Linked DNA regions of Homo sapiens. The protein of the gene in region 1 interacts with the protein of each later gene in a pairwise test. Each region holds a gene or a part of one and is shown on either strand. Other genes may lie near its edges.

Region 1 (8,653 bases):
GCTACTCAGGAGGCTGAGGCAGGAGAATCACTTGAACCTGGGAAGTGGAGGTTTCGGTGAGCCGAGATCGTGCCATTGCACTACAGCCTGGGCAACAAGAGTGAGACTCTGTCTCAAAAAAAAAAAAAAAAAAAGTCAAATATGTAAGATGTCAGATGATATTAAGTGCTATGAAGAAAATGAGGAGGGAAGGGAGATGGGGAGTGTATGTGCGGACAGAGGTTCCCTTTAAATTGTCCCCTTAAATAGGGTGGCCTGGCCGGGCATGGTGGCTTACGCCTGTAATCCCAGCACTTTGGGTGGCTAAGCCAGGCAGATCACCTGAGGTCAGGAGCTCGAGACTAGCCTGGCCAAAATGGCAAAATCGCATCTGGCTGGGCGTGGTGGCTCACGTCTGTAATCCCAGCACTTTGGGAGGCAGAGACGGGCGGATCACGAGGTCAGGAGATCGAGACCATCCTGGCTAACACAGTGAAACCCCGTCTCTACTAAAAATACAAAAAATTAGCTGGGCATGGTGGCGGGTGCCTGTAGTCCCAGCTACTCGGGAGGCTGAGGCAGGAGAATGGCGTGAAACCAGGAGGCGGAGCTTGCAGTGAGCCAAGATTGCGCCACTGCACTCCAGCCTGGGCGAAAGAGCGAGACTCCATCTCAAAAAAAAAAAAAAAAAAAAAAAAAAGGCGAAATCTCATCTCTGCTGAAAATACAAAATTAGCCAGGCATGGTGACAGGTGCCTGTAATCCCAGCTACTTGAGAGCCTGATGTGGGAGAATCACTTGAATCCTGAAGGCAGAGTTTGCAGTGAGCTGAGATCGCATCACTGCACTCCAGCCTAGGTGACAAAGGGAGACTGTCTCAAAAAAATTAAAAAGGTGGCCAGAGAAGGCCTGCCTGGGAAGGGAACATATCAGCAAAGAACAGAAGGAACGGAGAGAGGGATCCCCAGGGACAGCTGAGGGAAGGGCCTTCCAGGCAGAGGGAACAGCCAGTGCAAAGGCCCTGAGACAGGCCTGTCCTGGGGAGTAATTTCAAGGATGCTGGTGTGCCCAGGGGTGCGGAATATGATGCGTCATGGGTGTACACAGGGACCCTCTGGCTGCATGAGGGAAATGATCTTCAGGGCCAGGAGGGGAGCAGGGAGACCCAAAGTGCATAGGACAGGGCCTGGCCCGTGGCAGACTTGTAACAGTCATAACTGGAAGTTGGGAAGAGGGTGGAGGAGGTGGTCTAAGAAGGCAAGGTGGGCTGGGTACAGCAACTCACACCTGTAATCCCAGCACTCTGAGAGGCCGAGGTGGTAGGATTGCTTGAGCCCGGGAGTTTGAGACCAGCCTCGGCAACATAGTGAGACCCCATCTCTACAAAAAAAAAAAAAAAAAAAAAAAAAAGCCAGGCATAGTGGCATGCACCTGTAGTCCCAGCTACTAGGGAGGCTGAGGCAGGAGAATCAGTTGACCCAGGAGGTTGAGGCTGCAGTGAGCCACCATCGTGGCCACTGTACTCCAGCCTGGGGGACAGGGTGAGAACACAAGACCCTGTCTCAAGAAAAAAAATGTCAGGCACGGTGTCTCACACCTGTAATCCCAGCACTTTGGGAAGCCGAGGCAGGTGGATCACCTGAGGTCAGGAGTTTGAGATCAGCCTGGCCAACATGGTGAAACCCTGTCTCTACTAAAAATACAAAAATTAGCCGGACGTGGTGGTGCACGCCTGTAATCCCAGCTACTTGGGAGGCTGAGGCAGGAGAATCACTGGAATCCAGGAGGCGGAGGTTGCAGTGAGCTGAGATCGCGGCACTCCAACTCCAGCCTGGGCAACAGAGCAAGACTCCATCTCAAAAAAAAAAAAAAAAAAAAAAAGAAGGAAAGGCTGTGAGCGAAGGTGTGGTGGTGGGAATCTGCCCCCCTCAGAACTCAGGTCCTCTCCACGCTGTGGCCCACAGTGCCAAGGTTGCCCCTCAGAGCTGGTGCTGAGGTCCGGGCCAGGGAGGCCGAGGACAGGGCGGCAGGGAGAGGGCTTCCTGGAGGAGGCCCCCAGGCCCCGGGAGGTGGCACCAGGGGAATGAGCCCTTTGTGTCCCGCCAGGTTCTTCGTGAACTTTGTGGTTGGGCAGGATCCGGGCTCAGACGTCGCCTTCCACTTCAATCCGCGGTTTGACGGCTGGGACAAGGTGGTCTTCAACACGTTGCAGGGCGGGAAGTGGGGCAGCGAGGAGAGGAAGAGGAGCATGCCCTTCAAAAAGGGTGCCGCCTTTGAGCTGGTCTTCATAGTCCTGGCTGAGCACTACAAGGTCTGCATGCTTTCTCTCTTGTTTCCCAAGCTGGAGTGCAGTGGCGCCATCTTGGCTGCTTCCTTCCTTCCCGCCTTCCTTCCTTTTCTTTCTTTCTTTCTTTTTTTTTTTTTTTTTTTTGAGATGGAGTTTCACTCTGTTGCCCAGGCTGGAGTGCAGTGGCATGATCTCAGCTTACTGCAACCTCTGCCTGCTGGGTTCAAGAGCTTCTCCTGCCTCAGCCTCCCGAGTAGCTGGGATTATAGGCGCGTGCCACCACGCTCAGCTAATTTCTGTATTTTGAGTAGAGATGGGGTTTCACCATGTTGCCCAGGCTGGCCTCGAACTCCCGACCTCAGGTGTTCTGCCCTCCTTGGCCTCCCAAAGTGCTGGAATTACAGGCGTGAGCCACCACACCCAGCCCCTTCCTTCTTTTTCCTCTTTTTCCTTCCTCTTTCTCTGTTCTCTCCTCTTTCCTCCCCTCCTTCCTTCCCCCTTCCCTCCTCTCTTCTTCCTTCTCTCTCCTTCCCTCCTTCATTTATTTCCTTTTTCCATCCCCACTTTTTATGTCAACTTCTTTCTTTTCTTTTCCTTCTTTCCTGCCTATTTTATTTTATTTTATTATTTATTTATTTATTTATTTTTATTTATTGATCATTCTTGGGTGTTTCTCAGAGAGGGGGATGTGGCAGGGTCATAGGATAATAGTGGAGAGAAGGTCAGCAGATAAACACGTGAACAAAGGTCTCTGGTTTTCCTAGGCAGAGGGCCCTGCGGCCTTCCACAGTGTTTGTGTCCCTGGGTACTTGAGATTAGGGAGTGGTGATGACTCTTAAGGAGCATGCTGCCTTCAAGCCTCTGTTTAACAAAGCACATCCTGCACAGCCCTTAATCCATTTAACCCTGAGTTGACACACCACATGTCTCAGGGAACACAGGGTAAGGTTACAGATTAACAGCAACTCAAGGCAGAAGAATTTTTCTTAGTACAGAACAAAATGGAGTCTTCTATGTCTACTTCTTTCTACACAGACACAGTAACAATCTGATCTCTCTTTCTTTTCCCCACATTTCCCCCTTTTCTTTTCGACAAAACCGCCATCGTCATCATGGCCCATTCTTGATGGTCGCTGTCTCTTCGGAGCTGTTGGGTACACTTCCCAGACAGGGCGGCCTGGCAGAGGCGCTCCTCACTTCCCAGACGGGGCGGCCGGGCAGAGGCGCTCCTCACCTCCCAGACGAAGGGCGGCCGTTTCCTGCCTATTTTTAAAAATCCTCTTTTAGCGCTTTTCCTTAGTCCCATTACCCTACTGCTGAGAGTCTTGTAATACATTTCATGTGTATTTCCTCCTACCACTTTGTGTTTTTTGCAAAACGTGTACTTTTTGTTTTCCTCTTGAGACTGGGTCTCGCTCTGTTGCCCAGGCTGGAGTGCAGTGATGCAAACAGCTCACTACAGCCTCAACCTCCCCGGGCTCAGGTGATCCTCTCACATTAGCCTCCGGAGTAGCTGGGACTCTAGGTGCACACCACCACGCCCGGCTAATTTTTGTATATTTTTGTAAAGACGGGGTCTTGCTATGTTTCTCAAGCTGGTCTCGAACTCTTGATCTCAAATGATCCCCCACCTTGGCTTCCTAAAGTGCTGGGATTACAGGCATGAGCCACTGCGCCCGGCCAGTGAGCTGATTTTTGACCTTAGCTTGACCTCTGAGCTGTGGACTCCAAGGTTCCTGATGCTGAGGCTGTCCCAGCTCATCCCCAAGACTATCGACTCCCAATGAAAAAGATCCCTGATCCTTGCTTTTTTTTTTTTTTGAGACAGAGTCTTGCTCTGTCACCCAAGCTGGAGTGCAGCAGCGTGATCTCCACTCACTGCAACCTCCACCTCCCGGGTTCAGGCGATTCTCCTGCCTCAGCCTCCTGAGTATCTGGGATTACAGGAGCCCGCCACCATGCCTGGCTAATTTTTGTATTTTTAGTAGAGATGGGGTTTCACTATGTTGGCCAGACTGGTCTCACACTCCTGATCTCAAATGATCCACCCCCCTCAGCCTCCCAAAGTGCTGGGATTAGAGGCGTGAGCCAGGGTGCCCTGCCCTTGCTTCCTGTTTGTACCTTCCCAGGATCATGGGTGCTGACTCCTGACCTCCCATCTCTGCCCTCCAGGTGGTGGTAAATGGAAATCCCTTCTATGAGTACGGGCACCGGCTTCCCCTACAGATGGTCACCCACCTGCAAGTGGATGGGGATCTGCAACTTCAATCAATCAACTTCATCGGAGGCCAGCCCCTCCGGCCCCAGGTGTGAGGGGTCCCATCCCTTCTTGCGTCCTTTCTTTCTAAATTCAGTTCCACATTCATTTTTTTTCTTTTTTTCTTTTTTTCTTTTTTTTTTGAGACGGAGTCTCACTCTGTCGCCCAGGTTGGAGTGCAGTGGCGCGATCTTGGCTCACTGCAAGCTCCGCCTCCCAGGTTCACGCCATTCTCCTGCCTCAGCCTCCCAAATAGCTGGGACTACAGGAGCCTGCCACCACGCCCGGCTAATTTTTTTGTATTTTTAGTAGAGACAGGGTTTCACTGTGTTAGCCAAGATGGTCTCGATCTCCTTACCTCATGATCCACCCACCTCGACTTCCCAAAGTGCTGGGATTACAGGCGTGAGCCACCGCAGTTGGTCTATTTTTTCTTTTTGAGATGGAGTCTTGCTCTGTCTCCCAGGCTGGAGTACAGTGGTGTGATTCTGGCTCACTGCAACCTCTGCCTCCCAGTTTTAAGCAATTCTCCTGCCTCAGCCTCCCAAGTAGCTGGGATTACAGGCACCCACCATCACATCTGGCTAATTTTTGTATTTTTAGTAGAGACGGGGTTTCACCATGTTGGCCAGGCTGGTCTGGAACTCCTGGCCTCAAGTGATCTGCTGGCTACAGTCTCCCAGAGTGCTGGGATTACAGGTGTGAGCCATGGTGCCCAGCGCATTCCACATTCATTTATTTCCCAAGCATCTCCCTCTGCTGAGTTATGCCAAGAGCCCAGTGATGATCAAGGGATCCCACTGGGAAGACAGACCCATCACTGCAAGGGATAAAGGCCGGGATGGGGAGGCCCTGGCTGAAGGGTTGCAGTTGGGTTTGGGCCCAGACAGAGGGATCAGGGCCAGGACAGGAGGGTGGGTGGAGGCAGGCAGAGGGGTCAGGCCCAGGGCTGGAGACAGGAATGACTGAGATATCTCTGGGCCCTGACCTCACTGGGCTCACAGACATGGCATCAGAGAGTGACAGCCCAGAAATGGTCAGGTCTGTGATAGGGAGGGCACAGGCAGAGGGGCAGGGGCTGGGATATGGAGTATACAGGAGGTTTGGGAGCCTACAGGAAGGGCTTGACTAGTCATGGGTCAGGAAGGAAGTGCTTCCTGGAGTAGGAGGAAGTGTGTAAGGTGAGTCAGAAAGTGAGGATAAGGAAAGGCAAAGAACACACGATAGTGAATGAATTCCCTAGAGGTTGCTTAACACAATCATTAAAAATAAATAACATACAATTAAATTGAGTTTATCAATATTATTATTATTATTATTATTATTATTATTATTATTATTATTTTTGAGGCAGGGTCTGGCTCTGTCACCCAGGCTGGAGTGTGGTGGTGCAATCACAGCCTACTGTATTCTTGACTTCCTGGGTTCAAGTGATCCTCCCACCTCAGTCTCCTGAGTAGCTGGGACTACAGGCACGCACCACCAGCCCCAGCTAGTTTTTAAATTTTTTGTAAAGACAGAGGGGAGGAATTTTCCTATGTTGTCCAGGCTGGTCTTGAACTCCTGACCTCAGGTGATCCACCCACCTCAGCCTCCCAAAGTCCTGAGATTACAGGCGTGAGCCACAGCCCCCGGCTTATAAAGCTACGTTTATTTGTTTGTTTGTTTTTTGTTTTTTGTTTTTTTTTTAGATGGAGTCTTGCTCTGTGGCCCAGGTTGGAGTGCAGTGGCATGATCTCAGCTCACTGCACCCTCTGCCTCCCAGGTTTAAGGAATTCTTCCTCAGCCTCCCAAGTAGCTGTGATTACAGGCACCTGCCACCACGCCCGGCTATATAAAGCTACTTTTAAAAGGCCTTCAGAATAGCTGGCTGAGAATAGAAGTCAAGGCAGAATGGAGTTAATTACAAGGAGGAGAAAAGAGAAGGTAACAGAGAGAAAGAGAGAGAGTAAAAGTTAAAGGTGTTAGACTTGGGAGGGTGAGGCGAGCGGATCACCTGAGGTCGGGAGTTTGAGACCAGCCTGACCAACATGGAGAAACCCCATCTCTATTAAAAATACAAAATTAGCTGGGCGTGGTGGCGCATGCTTGTAATCCCAGCTACACCGGAGGCTGAGGCAGGAGAATCACTTGAACCCAGGAGGCAGAGGTTGAGGTGAGCAGAGATCGTGCCACTGCACGGCACCCTGGGCAACAAGAGCGAAATTCCATCTCAAATAAATAAATAAAAGTGTTTGGCAGAAGGAAGCCCCTGCGCTGAGGTGTGGCCAAGACAGAGAGAGAGGCAGAGACACAGGGACAGAGGCAGAAACTGAGATCAAGATCAGCGAGTGAGGGCCCCGGGACAGCAGGAAGACAGCAAGGGGAAGGGCACAGAGAACAAAATGGACCAAGCATTGTCCTAAAGCTTTGGGGTGACTCACTGGGCATCAGCGATCCCAGAACATGGGGTGCCCCTCTCCGTGAATCTGTGATCGGGGTGCCACCCTTTGATGCCAGAGTTCTCTGGCATAGTGGTGGTGGTGGTGGGCCACCCCAGGGCAGGCACTCTCGACATCTTTCAGTCGCAAATCTGGGGACCCTCTCATAACCGCTTTCTCTTTCTGTGCCCACAGGGACCCCCGATGATGCCACCTTACCCTGTAAGTACTTGCTGATAGGTGAGGGTCTTCCTCCCTAGTGGGGTCCCTCAGCCCCTCTCACCCTTCCTGCCTTCTGTCCATCGTTCAGGGTCCCGGACATTGCCATCAACAGCTGAACAGCCTGCCCGTGAGTGGGAGGGCTGGGAGGGCCCCGGGTGAGGAGTGGGAATGGTGAGAATTGGGGTAGGGGGAGCTAAGAGGGGTTGCAGCCCAAGGTGTACTAACCCAGCACCTAGAGAAACGCCGGAGTCTAATGGGTGTGTCATAGATATCTGTCGACTCTTGGAGAATAATATCGCTTCTTCCTCACTTCACAGACCATGGAAGGACCCCCAACCTTCAACCCGGTATGGCTTGGGGAAACAGAGATGGATGGTGGGGAGGGGGCACGGATCTCCAGGGAATCTGAGACAGCCAGAAAGGGAGTGGGCTGAGGGTTTTGGGGTGGGAGGTAGGGGAAGGGTAGATAGAGTTCGTGGTCAGGTTTAGGGAGCAGAAGGAATTGGGGATGTTTTCCAGGAGGAGTGGGACCTCTCAGAAAATTTGTTCTTGGGCTGGACATGGTGGCTCACGCCTGTAATCCCAGCACTTTGGGATGCCAAGGCGGACAGATCACGAGGTCAGGAGATCGATCGAGACCATCCTGGCCAGCATAGTGAAACTCTGTCTCTACTAAAAATACAAAAATTAGCTGGGCATGGTGGCGCGCGCCTGTAATCCCAGCTACTCAGGAAGCTGAGGCAGGAGAATCGCTTGAACCAGGGAGTCGGAGGTTGCAGTGAGCCGGGATCGTGCCACAGTACTCCAACCTGGTGACAGAACGAGACTCCATCTCAAAAAAAAAAAAAAAAAAAAAAAAAGAAAAAGAAAAGAAAAAGAAAATTTATTCTTGGCCAGACACGGTGGCTCATGCCTATAATCCCAGCCCTTTGGGAGGCCAAGGCAGGTGGATCACTTGAGGTCAAGAGTTCCAGATCAGCCTGGTCAACATGATGAATCCCCGTCTCTACTAAAATGACAAAAGTTAGCCAGGTGTGGTGGCGCACACCTGTAATCCCAGCTACTAGGAAGGCTGAGGCAGCAGAATTGCTTGAACCTAGGAGGCAGAGGTTGCAGTGAGCTGAGATTATGCCACTACACTCCAGCCTGGGCGTCAGAGGGAGACTCTGCCTAAAAAAAAAAACAAAATTTGTTCCTTTGTTCCTGCAAGGCTGGGCGTGGTGGCTCACGCCTGTAATCCCAGCACTTCGGGAGGCTGAGATGGGAGGATTGCTTGAGCCCAGCAGTTTGAGGCTGCAGTGAGGCTTGATCATGCCACTGCACTCCAGCCTGGGTGACAGAGTAAGACCCCATCTCTTATAAGAAAAAAAGACAGGAAAGAAAAGAAAAGAAAAAGAAAATTTCTTCCCACATCTGGCTCTGCTAAGCTGAGAGAGAATGGGACCCCCCGTTCTCTTCCCACAGCCTGTGCCATATTTCGGGAGGCTG
Region 2 (8,653 bases), on another chromosome or scaffold:
TTCTTTTTCATAGCCTTCAGTTCAAAATATTCTTGTGCCAAAATGTGGGCATTTGGAGGGTGGCACATCCTGATCTCTTCTCTAAGGGCTAAGTGAGGGGGAAAAGCATAAAGCATGGGCCCATTCTGATTCCAGAGAATGGAAAGGATGGAATTGGATAGAGTCAGAGGAAGTATGGCAGCAAGAAAATATATCTGCAATAGAGAAGGTCCATGTCACAGCAACTGGCTGCTCCCAGGGAGGAGGGCACACAACGGTGGTGATCCCTCACTGTCTTCTAGCAAAACTGCTGTTTTGTGGGGGAAACATCCCCCTACACCTGCCCCAATAAAAAGAAGGAAAAATGAAAGGAAGCTTCCTCCTAGTTCTGTAAAATTTCCTGTCATCCTTACTCATTGGATTGATTGAAATTTGAATTTCTACATTTCAAAATCAAAATAGTGAAGACAATTTGTCTTTCAAGAGAATCAGAGGCCTCATAACTCCTGCCAAGTTAATAAGTATGAGTCTTACCTTGTTTGACATTCAGCTCTCCTGCTACATTATCTTCTTTAAGGAAAATTAATTGATTGTAAAATATGTGCTACTTCACTCGCATTATTAAATATGCATTAACATGCCACCAGGACTTCCAAATAAGTTAGGATGCTTACTTATTCACCTTGTCCTAGTCTGTGAATTGTGCTAGAAATTCATTTTTCTTCTTCAAATATTAAGAGTGCCCTTGGTAGACCAAAGTTCTAATTTTACTAAGTAGAACTACTTTCACAGCTTGAAATGCTGATATGGGTTCCCAAAAGGCCTGTGCCTGTAAGACCTGGTGCAGGTGCAATGGTTATGCATATCTATGGATTACCTGGACAGGCTCTCATCTGGACTGTTCCTCAAAGAAGGGAGCACCAATTGCTGTTTTCATGGAGCTAGTACTCCAGTGGGAAAGGTTAAACAGGAGCACAAAGTCAGTGATATGGGTTATAAGAGAGAAATGATCTCACCTCCAAGAAAGGATTTCACAGCTAGAGCACACTTCATACATGAGAGTGGATTTTGTAACCAACGATAGAAATGAATGTTAGGGTTTTTTTTTTCTAATCTCATTTTATTGTACCTCTAAACGTTTTCTATGAATAAGGAACTTATTTCTCATATGGCTGAGGATGGAAATGACTTCATTCAACAGTAGTTGCAAATAAGACGTTTGCTATTTATGAAGGAAGTTCGGATTGGCATTTAAAGTATTGCGTGTATGTGGAATATCTAAGGATTTCTTATTTTATTTTAAAATATTTTTTAAACCTTAAAACAGTCAGCAAACTGGCTCTTGATTTTGTGCAAGATGTTCCCATCAGTTCAGGAAAAATAACTGCCTGAAAGGACAAAGTACACACACACACGTGTGCAAACACTCACACCCACATACGCATACACACACGCGCGCGCACACACACAGGCTAGCATCCCCAGGCCTCAAGGTTCTAAGCAGGGCATCTCAAACCCAGCAGAGTATCATACCAACAACACCCACACCTAAAAACAGTGACTGGGTTATTTCTATTTATTCAGTAGAATCATCAACTGCCCCCTAGATATGGCCGCCTCTAAGAAGGGATACCAACTCAAGAAAGAATAATATGCTCTTCTTGCCCTCAAGGAGAAGGACAGGCAGAAATAAGCATGCAATTACAATATAATTGATGTTAAGGAAAATGGCGGAGGTTTGCACCAAGTGCATTGTATTCTTATATTTATTATTTTTTATATTTTGTCTTGCTATCTTACCAGGGCTGGTCTGAAACCCTGGCCTCAAGCAATCCTCCTGCTTTGGCCTTCCAAAGTGCTGGGATTACAGTCATGAGCCACAACACCCAGCCAGCACCAAGTGCATTGTAAATAATATATAGCTGGAGCTGAGCTGACTGAGGAGTCTGTGACAGCATCACCAAAGGAGGGAGAATTTGATTAGGGCTTTAAGGATGGTCAGGTCACAGTAGGAGGTGGGGTGGGCAGAGCACTGCAAGCAGAGAGAACTATCTGTACAGACTCAGAACCCTAAAGGAGAAGAGCACATGAGCCTGGGATGGAGGAAGGGAACACGGTATAGGGAAAGGGGGCAGGCTGGCATCAGGTCAGGTGGCCTCTGCGTGTGCTAAGGCATTTTAGAAGGAATCGCTCAGAATTTACGCAGTCAAATTGTGATTTTTTTTTTGAGACAGGGTCTCACTCTGTCACCCATGCTGGAGTGCTATGGTATGATCTCAGCTCACTGCAGCCTCAACCTCCCAGGCTCAAGCAATCCTCCCACCTCAGCCTCCTGAGTAGCTAGGACTACAGACATGCGCCACCACACTTGGCTAGTCTTTGTTTTGTTTTGTGTTTTAGAGATGAAGTCTCACCCTGTCGCCCAGACTGGAGTGCAGTGGCATGATCTTGGCTCACTGCAACCTCCACCTCCTGGGTTCAAGCAATTCTCCTGTCTCAGCCTCCTGAGTAGCTGAGTTTACAGGCATATGCCACCACACCTGGCTACTTTTTTTGTATTTTTAGTAGAGACAGGGTTTCACAACGTTGGTCAGGCTGGTCTCAAACTCCTGACCTCAAATGATCCGCCTGCCTCAGCCTCCCAAAGTGCTGGGATTACAGGCGTGAGCCACCGTGCCCGACCTAATTCTTGTATTTTTTTGTAGAAATCGGGTTTCACCATGTTGCCCAGGCTGATCTCAAACTCCTGAGCTCAAGTGATCTGCCTGCTTCAGCCTTCCAAAGTGCTGGGATTACAGGTGTGAGCCAACTGCACCAGGCTGATTTTTTTTTTTTTAATATTACTTTGGTGGCCCCATTGAAAGTGCTTGGAAAAGGAGAGGGATTTGTGTGTGGCTGGGACATCCGTTGGGAAGTTACTGTCATAATCCAAACCAGGCTAAAGGCAGTGGATGCAGACACTGGGACGGAGGTACTAATACTGATGAGGTGACCCCTCCACAATGAAATTCAGGAGTAAAGATGAGGGCCTAAATGCTGCTCTGGCTCTGAAGATTTCTGTTTTCTCCTCTGTAAAAGAGCATAATAATGGTACCTATCTTGGGATTGTTGAAATAATTAAATAAGCTAATATTATATATGTATAATGGACATTTTATACACACACACACACACACACACACACACACACGTATATACATACTTGTGAAAACAGTGCCTGGCACATAGTATGAACATAACAATAGCAGCTTTTGATGCTGAGCAGCTTAAGGAAAGTGTGGAGTCAATGTTTCCAGCTTGGGATGTCAACTTGGAAGTGATTCCCTTTGTTTATTTATTGCTGTTGTTTTAAATAGAGACAGGGCTTCACTCTGTCACCCACGCTGAAGTGCAGTGGCACAATCATAGCTTATTGCAGCCTCAAACTCCTGAGCCCAGGCAATCCTTTGACCTCAGCCTCCTGAGTAGCTGGGACTACAGGCACGTGCTACCACAACTGGCTAAGTTTTTTTATTTTTTATATTTGTAGAGACAGGGTCTTGCTATGTTGCCCAGGCTGGCCTCTAGTGATCCTCCCATCTCTTCCTGGGTTTCCCAAAGTGCTGAGATTACAGGTGTGAGCCACCTCACCCAGCCTCGGGCAAGGCTTTATTTAGGTAGAAAATCTAGGAATAAAGTTAGAGCAAAAAAGAGAGTGAGTTCTCTTTGAGGCCTGTTGGTTGAAATTAAGTTGACTCCAGGCATCTTCATGAAGGGGTAGATGAAGTAGGAAGCTTGTAGCATACGTTCACCTGGAGCTCAGAAGAGGACACACATTTGGGAGCTGTTAGCATAGATATGAGCGCGGATAAGACCACTGTGAGGGAAGCCTGGGAAACAGTAGCGCTTAAGGAGTGGGGAAGTTAGAGATGTCAGAGAATGAAGCAGAGGGCCACAGGGAGAGAAAGAGCAGCAGAACCAGGAGAGGGGCGATCTGGAGAAGTCAAGGGAAAGTAGAACCACAAGTCAACAGAAAAGACTCCGAAAGGACAGAGGAGTCTATAGAGTGAGGCCACGGGTTCACTTGACTTGCCAGCTAGGAGGTTACTGGTGACGCTAGGGTTGGGGAAGGAGGAGAAGTTTGTGTTATGAGCGGGAGTTAGGCTAGGAAAAATGGTAGCAGAATGAACGCTCTTCTGGTGCAGTGGTGGTGCTAGGGAGGGGCGGGGAAGGGGAAGACCTAGGGCAGGCAAAGGCAGTTGTGGGGAGGTGTTTTTATGTTAAAAAAAAAAAAATTCGTTGTGAAATACAACATACAGAAAAATACATAAAAACAAATATACAACTTATAAGGCGAACTGTCACTCAGGTCAAGAAACAGGATATTGCCATCCCTCAGGGTCCAGCCCTACACATTTCATCACTGCTGCCTCCCTTCCCTGGGGTAAACCCAACCAGGGGTGACTACTGACCCAAATGTGGGGCAATTACTTCCTTGCTTTTCTTTATACCTTAACTTCTAATTATGAATCCCCAAGCAGTACCTTTGCCTGGTTTTGAACTTTATATAATAGAAACACAAAATGTATTCTTTGCTTATATTGAAACTTTTTTTTTGTTTTTTTGAGACAGAGTCTCGCTCTGTTGCCCAGGCTAGAGTGCAGTGGCGTGATCTTGGCTCACTGCAACCTCTGCCTCCCCAGTTCAAGCGATTCTCCTGCTTCAGCCTCCTGAGTAGCTGGGAATACAGGCATGAGCCACCAGGCCCGGCTTGTATTTTTAGTAGAGACGGGGTTTCACCCTGTTGGCCAGGCTGGTCTCAAACTCCTGACCTCACGTGATCCACCCGCCTTGGCCTCCCAAAGTGTTGGGATTACAGGCGTGAGCCACCATGCCTGGCCATCAGCTCTCTAAGATTCACATGGTGTTGCATGTAACTGCAGCTCATCCCATTTCATAATGCACAGGATTCTGCCATGTAAATATTCCACAACTTATACATTTTGCTGCTAGTGGACATTTGCGTTATTAAGTTTGGGGTTTTTGGAGCTTCTACAAACATTGCAGCTAGGGACACTGTTATCCATGCCAGGGGGAGTATCTGTAATAAATTTACTCTGGGGTTGTACTTAGGAGTGGAATTGCTAGGCCACTGGAATAAACATATACTTTCAACTTTGCTGATAGTGTCAGATTGGTTTCCTAAGTGATTTTACCAATTTGCATGCCTATCAGCAGAGTGAGTATTCCCATTTCTCATCATTATTCAGCTGACCTTTTAATGTCAACCATTCTGGTGGGTGTGTAGCAGTATGTCATTGAGTTTAATTAAAATTTTCCTGTTATTGGTTGTTAGATGCCAACTTTTTAAATATTTGCTCAACTTTCTTGCCCATTTTCTCTACTGGATTTTTTCCATTTTTATTTGAAAGAGTTCCTTAGATGTTCTGGTTACAAGCCTATGAAAGGAAATTAAATTTTGGGACCCCAAACTCATTTAACCAAAGGGAAAAGTCAAGCTGGGAACTGGGTCACGCATACCTATCTCCCCCTTTTGGTTCCTAAATAAGATGGCTACAAGATGAAAAGCTACACGCTTCCCCCATGTTTTGCCCACAAGGAAATTCCTGGTGAGCTATAAAAACTTCACCATGGCAATGTAATTGATAACTTATCTTTACAGGTGCAGTCACCCCAGATACAAATGCATATCTGATTGTTCCCCTACCCCATTTCGTCTGTATTATCTTATGTAAAATGCAGATTCTCCACATTTTTCCTTTGCCCCCTTTGTTTACATGAAAACTGTGTGCTTCTCACTATCCCGCCCTTTCTCCTTTAAATTTGGAGCCCTCAAAATCATCTCTGGAGAAAGGGATAGACCTGTCTCCCAGGCAGTTCCTTAACTTTGGCAAATAAATCTGCTAAAATGATTGAGACTTGTCTCATCATTTTCCTCGATTGACAAGCCCTTTGTCAGTTATGATTTGTAAATACCTTCTACCACTGTGAAGCCATCTTTTACTCTAATGGAATATTCTGAGGAACAAAAGTTAATTATATTGGTCCCATTTAGGAAACATTGGGACAAAAGTTAATTATATATGGTCCCATTTAGGAAACGTTGCTTCTCTTTCCTGTATCTTGTCTAAAATATCTTTTCCAACCTGCAAAATCATGAAGATTTTTTTTTCGAACAAGTGTAACTCTTTATTAAGATAAAATTGTTTTTATTAAAGAAATAGATAAAAATGATTAAGTACAATCAAATGGCTCCAAAAGCCTTACAATGAAAGCAACAGTCCTGCCAGTTGTTCTTTCCAGAGGCAAGCACTTCTCATTCTCTCAGTTTTTCCTTCTGGTAGTTACCTTCATGGGTTTTTCCAATTATTATTTTTTTAGTTTTTCAAGTGAATGCATATATTAATACATGAAATTTTTAAAAGCCTCTTCAGTTTATAATGCATCCTACCAGTCCCCTACCCTATCCCTCCTAATTCTCCAGAGCAATGACTTTTAACTCTTTTAGCAATGTCCTCTATTTTTTTCTCACATAACTACTTAGGCATTTCTTGATTGTTTTATACATTATATAGTGATTTCTTGATATGACAGATGAGGATTTAGCTCTTACACCATCACTGTCTTCACTTTTCCTCCCATATTGTCCCAAAGTAGTTACCAGATTTAGAGGCTAAGCAGTCATCACTTCATTATGACAATGTCCATATTGCTCATTGTTGAGAACAACAGGGTATTATGCTCTAAAGTCATTAGGATATTTTCTAAAAGCTTATACTTTCATTCACATTGAGGATCTCTATTCCCCCTGAAATTGAGTTTAATGTATAGTGTAAGGTAGGAGTCAAGTTTGCTTTCCACACGAACATCCACTTATTTTGGCATTATTATTTTTTAAATTTACTTTTAACACCACTCAGTGATCATCAACATTGCTTTAAAAAAGAACCTTTTCCCCACTCCACAGATATTTTGCCACGTGTCCATATTTGGGAGAGGCTTTTTGGAACAGGGCAACTGAAAGATTTTTCCAAACTCAGAGGAGATGGGGAAGAATCCAAAGAGATGGAAGTTAACAGCAACAGAGGTCAAAACAGTTCAGAATTTCTAAGAGGAAAATGCAGGAATGTTTTTTAACACATTTATTAAAAGGCATCTCTTGGAATCCCAACTCAAGTTTCCTCCTCCCTGTGAATAAGCAATCAATCTTACCACAGCTGCTCTCAGAGGCACAGAACCCAAGCTTGCTCTGAAGTTAGTTGGGTGGAACTCACTTACGAAAGTCTTGGGAGAGGACTAGGCTGGGGAAATGGGCCTCACTCTGCACAAACACACAGGAAAGGCTGAGTTACTCCATGAGTAAGCCAGTCAAGCAGGTTTGGAGAGTTTGTTAAATGGAGTTTACAATTTGGGAGATCATGTAAGTGTAAGTCCATCAGGGATCCAAACCTGCTGGAGTACAGGTGTAGACTTCTTGTCAAGCACGTACTTTGAATACAAAAGTTCTAAGGTAGGAAGTAACTATGTTATGTAGGGAAGAAGAATATTGTTTCTCCTTAACCCACTAGCCTGGGAAGTCAATATGAATCACATTGAGTACTCTTTCACATTGCTCAAGAGGCGCTCGGCTGGAGCTTCCTATATTCAATTAAAACACACACACACAAAAACACATGACAATAATTCGCTTTTGGGAAGGAGGTTAAAAAAGAAAAGTATATTCTCTACTCTTTCCTCAAGTTTGCATGATCACACCTAGACTTATTTTTAGGGGAAAACAGTGTAGGGGATTGTAAACCAAGTCACTTCCATGGCATCTCAGAGAGAGAGGGTATAAGGATTTAGTTTTTCCTCATTCAAACACTCCTGAAGTGATTCCCCTTGAAATTGAGGAGCCACTTACTCATCAGTGTTGAGGCACTGGAAAGAAAATAGAAAATAATTAATAATGTAGATAAAGATACATTTTTGCTGAGGGCTAAAGCAGAACTTTCTAATATGTAACACTAGCCAGATATGTAATTTAAAACTTTTCTGCAAGCCCATTAAAAATGCAAAATAAAGTAGGTATAACTCTTCACCTTATTTTAACTATATTTTATGGAACCTCATATATTGAAATTAATGAAATAATTTATATTTGTTTCATACCAAGTCTTTGAACATCCAGTGCATATTTTAAACATATAGTACATGTCAACTCTAATGCTACATTTTTATCAGAAATACTTGATCTGTTTTTAGATTTCATAAAATGTATATTTGTAAAAAGTAGATTCATAATCAAGTTGTTCTAAACATGCCTGTTTTTCAATACATGGATCTAATGTTCAGTTTTTAATTTAAATTTAAATTAGTTAAAATTAAATTCAGGTCCTTAGTCATATTAGTCACATTTCAAGCACTCAGTAACCACTTGCCACTGATGGTTATTCTATTGGATCACCCACGTAAGCATGTGTTTTTGGTTTTAGAGTTCATACACACACACAGATCTGGTTATCCTTCCTCTTTAAGGACCTGACCACCAGATTTATGCCAAAAAATTAAAGTAACAACTTTACATTTATTTCTGTAATATCAGTAGTAATATCTCCTCTTTCATTCATGAATTTAGTTATTTGTCTTCTCTCTTTTTTTTCCTTGGTTTCTTTTTTCCTTGACATTTCCTTGT
Region 3 (5,073 bases), on another chromosome or scaffold:
AGGAGCTTCTATTTTCTATCACATTACCCCTACATTGTTACACAAAAATGTATAAGGTATGACAGTGTCTTTCCCATCTTTGTATCTTCCATGTTGTTATATAATGAAGTGTCTGACACATAGAGGCTGAACATGTATTTAATTAGTATACATTAAAATTTTGGTTAACTTTCAAGACTTATGGCCAAACGCTTTTTAAAGCTGTTTTGTTTACTACTTAATTCCAAGTCTTTATTAATTTTCTCCTCTGTATTTCTACAATATTTCTAGATCAAAGAATAGAACATTTGCTATTCTTTGTGATTTGTTACTGCTATAATCTTTTTCTGTTCAATTAATTAAATTATAAACTGCATACTGTTGAACATACAACTAAGCAAATGGTAGCAATACTCTGACAGGTCCACAGATAATTGTTTATTGCTTGCTGAAAAAAATTCCACAGTTTGTTTTACCAAATTCCATCATGATGTATAATGAGTATCTGGGTCTTATAGATCCTTTTACGATGTACCTGGGGTTTATAGTGTAACCTAATCCTTAATACAAATAATATGAGGCTTGTCATAAGACTATAGGAGAAGCCTGTAAAGTTTATGGAAGTCTCCTACCACAGGCCAGGAACTTTACAACAGACCTTTCAGTGAAGACATATGGAAAAGAAAAAGAAACAGAGGTAGAAAGATAGATAGTGTTATCAAATTGTATTAATTTATATGTAATGATTCCTTCACTTCTGAATTAGGCTTTGCATCTAGCTAATCCCTGAACACTCATTGACTTTCAATGTATAAGAAAGTACTTGGTAAAAGACTGCTTCTAAATCTGAAAAGGTTCAAATAGTCTACAATTCACAATTTCTTTATATGTATAGGCATGGATATGATATGCAAATGTTTTTAAATTATAGTGTTTAACCACACTACTTGACTCCTTAATCTCATTTCCAAAGGAGCTGAGATTAAAGAGTAAATCCCCAGCATTCTTCAGAAACAGTACCAGCCCCAAGAGCACCAAGCCTTTAAAAATATTTCCATACATTATTTCTTTTATTCCTTTTAATCTTTTTTAAATAAAGAGGGGAAAGCACTTATCATCTCCATTCAGTTACATAGAATCGGAATGCTGCTATGTGACAGAAATCATCACACTAATGCACAGGAATTGAAGTCAAGCAACTTTGGTCTTGTCTGAATTGAATTAAGTCTTGACCTTGTAAACATTTCCGTTGGAGGTAGAACATACACATTTGACTTTTTGTCAAATAAGGGATAGTAAACAATGATTCTGAGATCCTAATAAATTAAAGGTATTGTAAAGGCATTAAATATACTTTTTAAAAGAAACCAAAGATAAAAAGGCACACAGATGTTTAATAAATTAGAAAGTGAAATGTAAATCTTCATAGTTGAAATGTTTGCATCTTCAGATCTTCACTGGTTTTATTTGATAATTTTGAAACTATGATTAATAATGAGCTCACATTTTAAACTCTTAGTGTGCATGACAAGCTCTGCAAGTATCTCCATTCACTATGGAGTTGTCCATAGTACCAGTGACTTTAAAACAATGTCAGCCACTGCATATTCATTTTTATTTACTCTTATGGAAGTCTGAGTGAATAATGATATTTGCACAGTAGAGATTTTTTTTAAAGTTTTAGCACCCCCTCCCACATTGGTGGTTTAAGTGCCTCCAGCTGCTGTTCCCATGAACACAGTGTTGATAGGTGGTAAAGAGGACACCATTTCTCTACTGCTTGTTCCATGGGAGTCCAGGGTTTCTTGAGCTGGATACTGGTTGGAAGTTCCATACATACATTGGGATGAGGAAGAAGGAATTGGGGTTTGCAAACTGGAAGCTGTAAGGGAAAATATAATCAGCAATTGAAAATTGATTGACATTTTCTTTTCTCTGCAAATGCCACTCATTTTAATACCCTGTATTTATTTTTGCACTTAGCACACATACCTATTCTAAATTTGAGTCTGTATGGTTTACCAGAGCAATCATTTTTTCTTCCATTTGTTCCCACTTGCTAGTCTCCCAGAAATTATTTCCTCTACATATTTCACAAAGAAAACTCCATTTCAACTTAAGTGCTACCGCCAAAATATATCCCCCAATCAACCTCCTCTTTCCATCTGCACTTTCACGGTTGTAGTTCAAACCACCATCTTTTCTCTCCTGGACCAACACAGCAGCCTCCTGACTGGTCCCATGATCTCCACCTTTGTTTCACCCACTCACCTTCCCGAGAGCAACCAGAATGATATTGCTGAAGAGTAGATCAAACTTTCACTCGTCTCAAATGCCATAGTGGCTTCCGATACCCTTGGAACATGAACCAAGCATCTTACCCTATGTAGATGGGCCCCTGATTTTTTATTTATTTTGCTCTACTCTCTCCTTCATTCAACATGCTTAAGACACACTGGCCTGCTCTCTGCCCATTGATTTTTTCAAATTTATTCTGATTTCAGCGGTTCTGCATTCACTGTTTCTTCTGCCTGGAACTCCTCCCTCAGATCTTCACATCTTTGCCTCCTTCTCATCACTCAGCTTTCAACTCAAATGTTTCTGCCTCAGGATTCCTTTCTCAGCTGTCCTACCGAAAGCAGCTCCTCCTTTACTGTCTGTCATTTTACTCTATTTAATCAGGTTCAGAGTACTTGACATTATCTTTTTAATGCATTTGCTCATGTATTTATTGCCTTACTGTCCCTCTACTAGAATGTAAACTTCTTACAGGCAAGAACTATGGCCTGATCACCACCATATCCTCACATCTAGAATGGGGTCTGGCTCCTAGTCGGTTCTCAATAAAATTCATTAACTGGCTCACTAGCCCTGTATTTCTCTCATATATGGTTGCTGCCTTCTTATTGCTGACATGACGTGCTCTCTGTCTAAGAACCAGGCTTTATACTTAAGAAATAGTTGAACTCAATTCTCCTTGCACTACTTATCCACTTATTCTATCCCCTCATTTTACCCTGCAGCACACTTTGTAATCTACTTGTAAGCCAGCTCTGATAAACTAAAGCTTAGACTCCACCCTACTCTTAACCTATGTTTCGTCAAAGCTTCCACTATCTCTTCAGGTAAACAGAACTAATAGTAACAATAGCAACACAGTACATTTTAGTCTCATGGTGAGAAAACTTCCTGAAGTGGAATTTTCTGCTTCATTAGAGTAACCTAGAAGCAATGACCATTTGCAGATAGCAGAAGATGAGCTGCTAGATTCTGCTCAGGGAGCATGTGTGACAGTGACAGGAAGAGAAGGAGTACTTCCTATTGAATTATTGGGAAGGTACACTGAGTGAGGAGAGATGAAATTGATTTCATTTTCCCTTATGCTCTGGTTGCGTGTCAATGCCCTCTACTTATGCTAGTCTGAAATCAATCTCATTGGAAGACTTTAACCATCTCATATAAATATTAACACTCTGCTTTGATACTTAGTGAATATATACTTGCCCTGTGAAATCTTATTAGTATTTTTAGAAACTAAATCTATAGTGACTAAATCTATGTTATTACTAATAACATACTAATTATTATTGCAGAATTTCTTCATAGATGAGGATTAAGAAATGTAACCTGGTTGGAAGAAGATTCCAGGAGGCTTCACGGCAAGCACACGTTTTTCTTATTTTTACTTACATGATATGTTAGAGAGCAATAAAAATGGCAACATTTTCTACAGAGGTGTTGAATCACATTTTACATAAGAATGAGAAAATGCTAGTAGCACCCATCACAGGACACCAGTTTTTTTTAATCTTGGAGTGATTTTTGGATACTGATGGAGATCATGAGGCCTAAAGATATCTCTTGGCACTACAACTGGGTCCAACACTAATCAAGAGTGAGAAAAGGATATTATTACTGCCCTTTTAAAACTTACAGTTTTAGACTGCATTTGACAGGTCATATTAATCTTTTGCATACTTAATAGATACCAGCTATTTTTTTTGTAAAAAGTAACAGATCTAGCAGTAGGTTGCATAATAGAGATATACAGAATAAGAAATGAAAAACTGTTACTAACTGTGTAGTCAGATACAAAAAATATAACTTTAGATCCAAGGTAATAAATCAACCGTGGAAACATGCTTGCTCAGTTCACCTCAGCATATCTCCCTCAAGTAATGTTGCATACCTGAGGTTAACAACTTCTTAAAATGTTTTCAAGAACTGCTAAAATAATTTACCTAGGACTGGAGTTCGACATGCAACTGGAGATGATGTGTCTGTGTAAAACGAGCTGGTCTGTTTTCTACCACTGTCATCTAAAATGTTAAGTGGATCGTGGATGTCACTGTAGGGGGGCAGTGAACGAATGCTGCTGATGACAGAAACGTGCTGATTCACCATTGATCCGAGCCTGTGAGACTCTGGGTAGTTTATGTTGCTTCCATAGTATCCTGTAACAGAAAATGTTGAGAATTTGCTGTTAACTTACTACAAAGAACTTTCAGGAAGGAAAAAAGTGACAAAGTAATGAGGTGACGTCCTAAAGATATCAAACTGTAAGTATTACATGTGTATCTATACATGCTACAGAACTGGATTTGTGCTTGTACATGGATAAGGTTTACTGTGCTGTTTTTTGTGTTTTTTAACACATAAGAATTGTAGCATCATACATAATTTAATACAATAATTATAGCATAATACATAATTTAAGACATAAGAATTGTATTAACTTTAAGACCAGATTACACTTCTGTCAGATTTCCCTTATCTAAATTAACAAGATCTACCTTTGAAGGAAAAAAAGCACTATCGCCTGTCACAAAAATACTACTTTCATGTATAGATGCATGTTTAGGGAAGACAAAGACTGGCCTACACTTAGGAGAAAGACACCAAAGAAGCCTACACACAAAGCCTATTTTGGTGACTCAAGGTCACAGGTCTCTCTAATTCCCTTAACTTCCTATTTTTATTGGTCTGTTTTGTTCCCAATCTTTAAAATCTGCTTTTAGTTATCAGGAAGAAATATTATCCACTAAAAATGTTTTCAAAAGACAGAACATTCTTCTTTGGGGCTATTAAGGTAGG

The links. The genes of interacting proteins can lie anywhere in the genome.
Region 2: the proteins of LGALS4 (region 1) and SLC28A3 interact in binary tests that used the Homo sapiens proteins (3 or more experiments, as listed by UniProt).
Region 3: the proteins of LGALS4 (region 1) and RFX6 interact in binary tests that used the Homo sapiens proteins (3 or more experiments, as listed by UniProt).

Annotation. Positions count from the first base shown.
Region 1 is NC_000019.10:38,802,381-38,811,033, reverse strand, and holds part of LGALS4 (galectin-4), read left to right. Parts: intron 1-2,085; coding exon 2,086-2,290; intron 2,291-4,438; coding exon 4,439-4,573; intron 4,574-7,138; coding exon 7,139-7,165; intron 7,166-7,253; coding exon 7,254-7,292; intron 7,293-7,482; coding exon 7,483-7,512; intron 7,513-8,629; coding exon 8,630-8,653. UniProt on the Homo sapiens protein: Galectin that binds lactose and a related range of sugars. May be involved in the assembly of adherens junctions.
Region 2 is NC_000009.12:84,330,229-84,338,881, reverse strand, and holds part of SLC28A3 (solute carrier family 28 member 3), read left to right. Parts: intron 1-8,653. UniProt on the Homo sapiens protein: Sodium-dependent, pyrimidine- and purine-selective. Involved in the homeostasis of endogenous nucleosides.
Region 3 is NC_000006.12:116,928,119-116,933,191, reverse strand, and holds the end of RFX6 (DNA-binding protein RFX6), read right to left. Parts: intron 4,434-5,073; coding exon 4,221-4,433; intron 1,862-4,220; coding exon 1,686-1,861; 3' UTR 1,031-1,685; downstream 1-1,030. UniProt on the Homo sapiens protein: Transcription factor required to direct islet cell differentiation during endocrine pancreas development. Specifically required for the differentiation of 4 of the 5 islet cell types and for the production of insulin.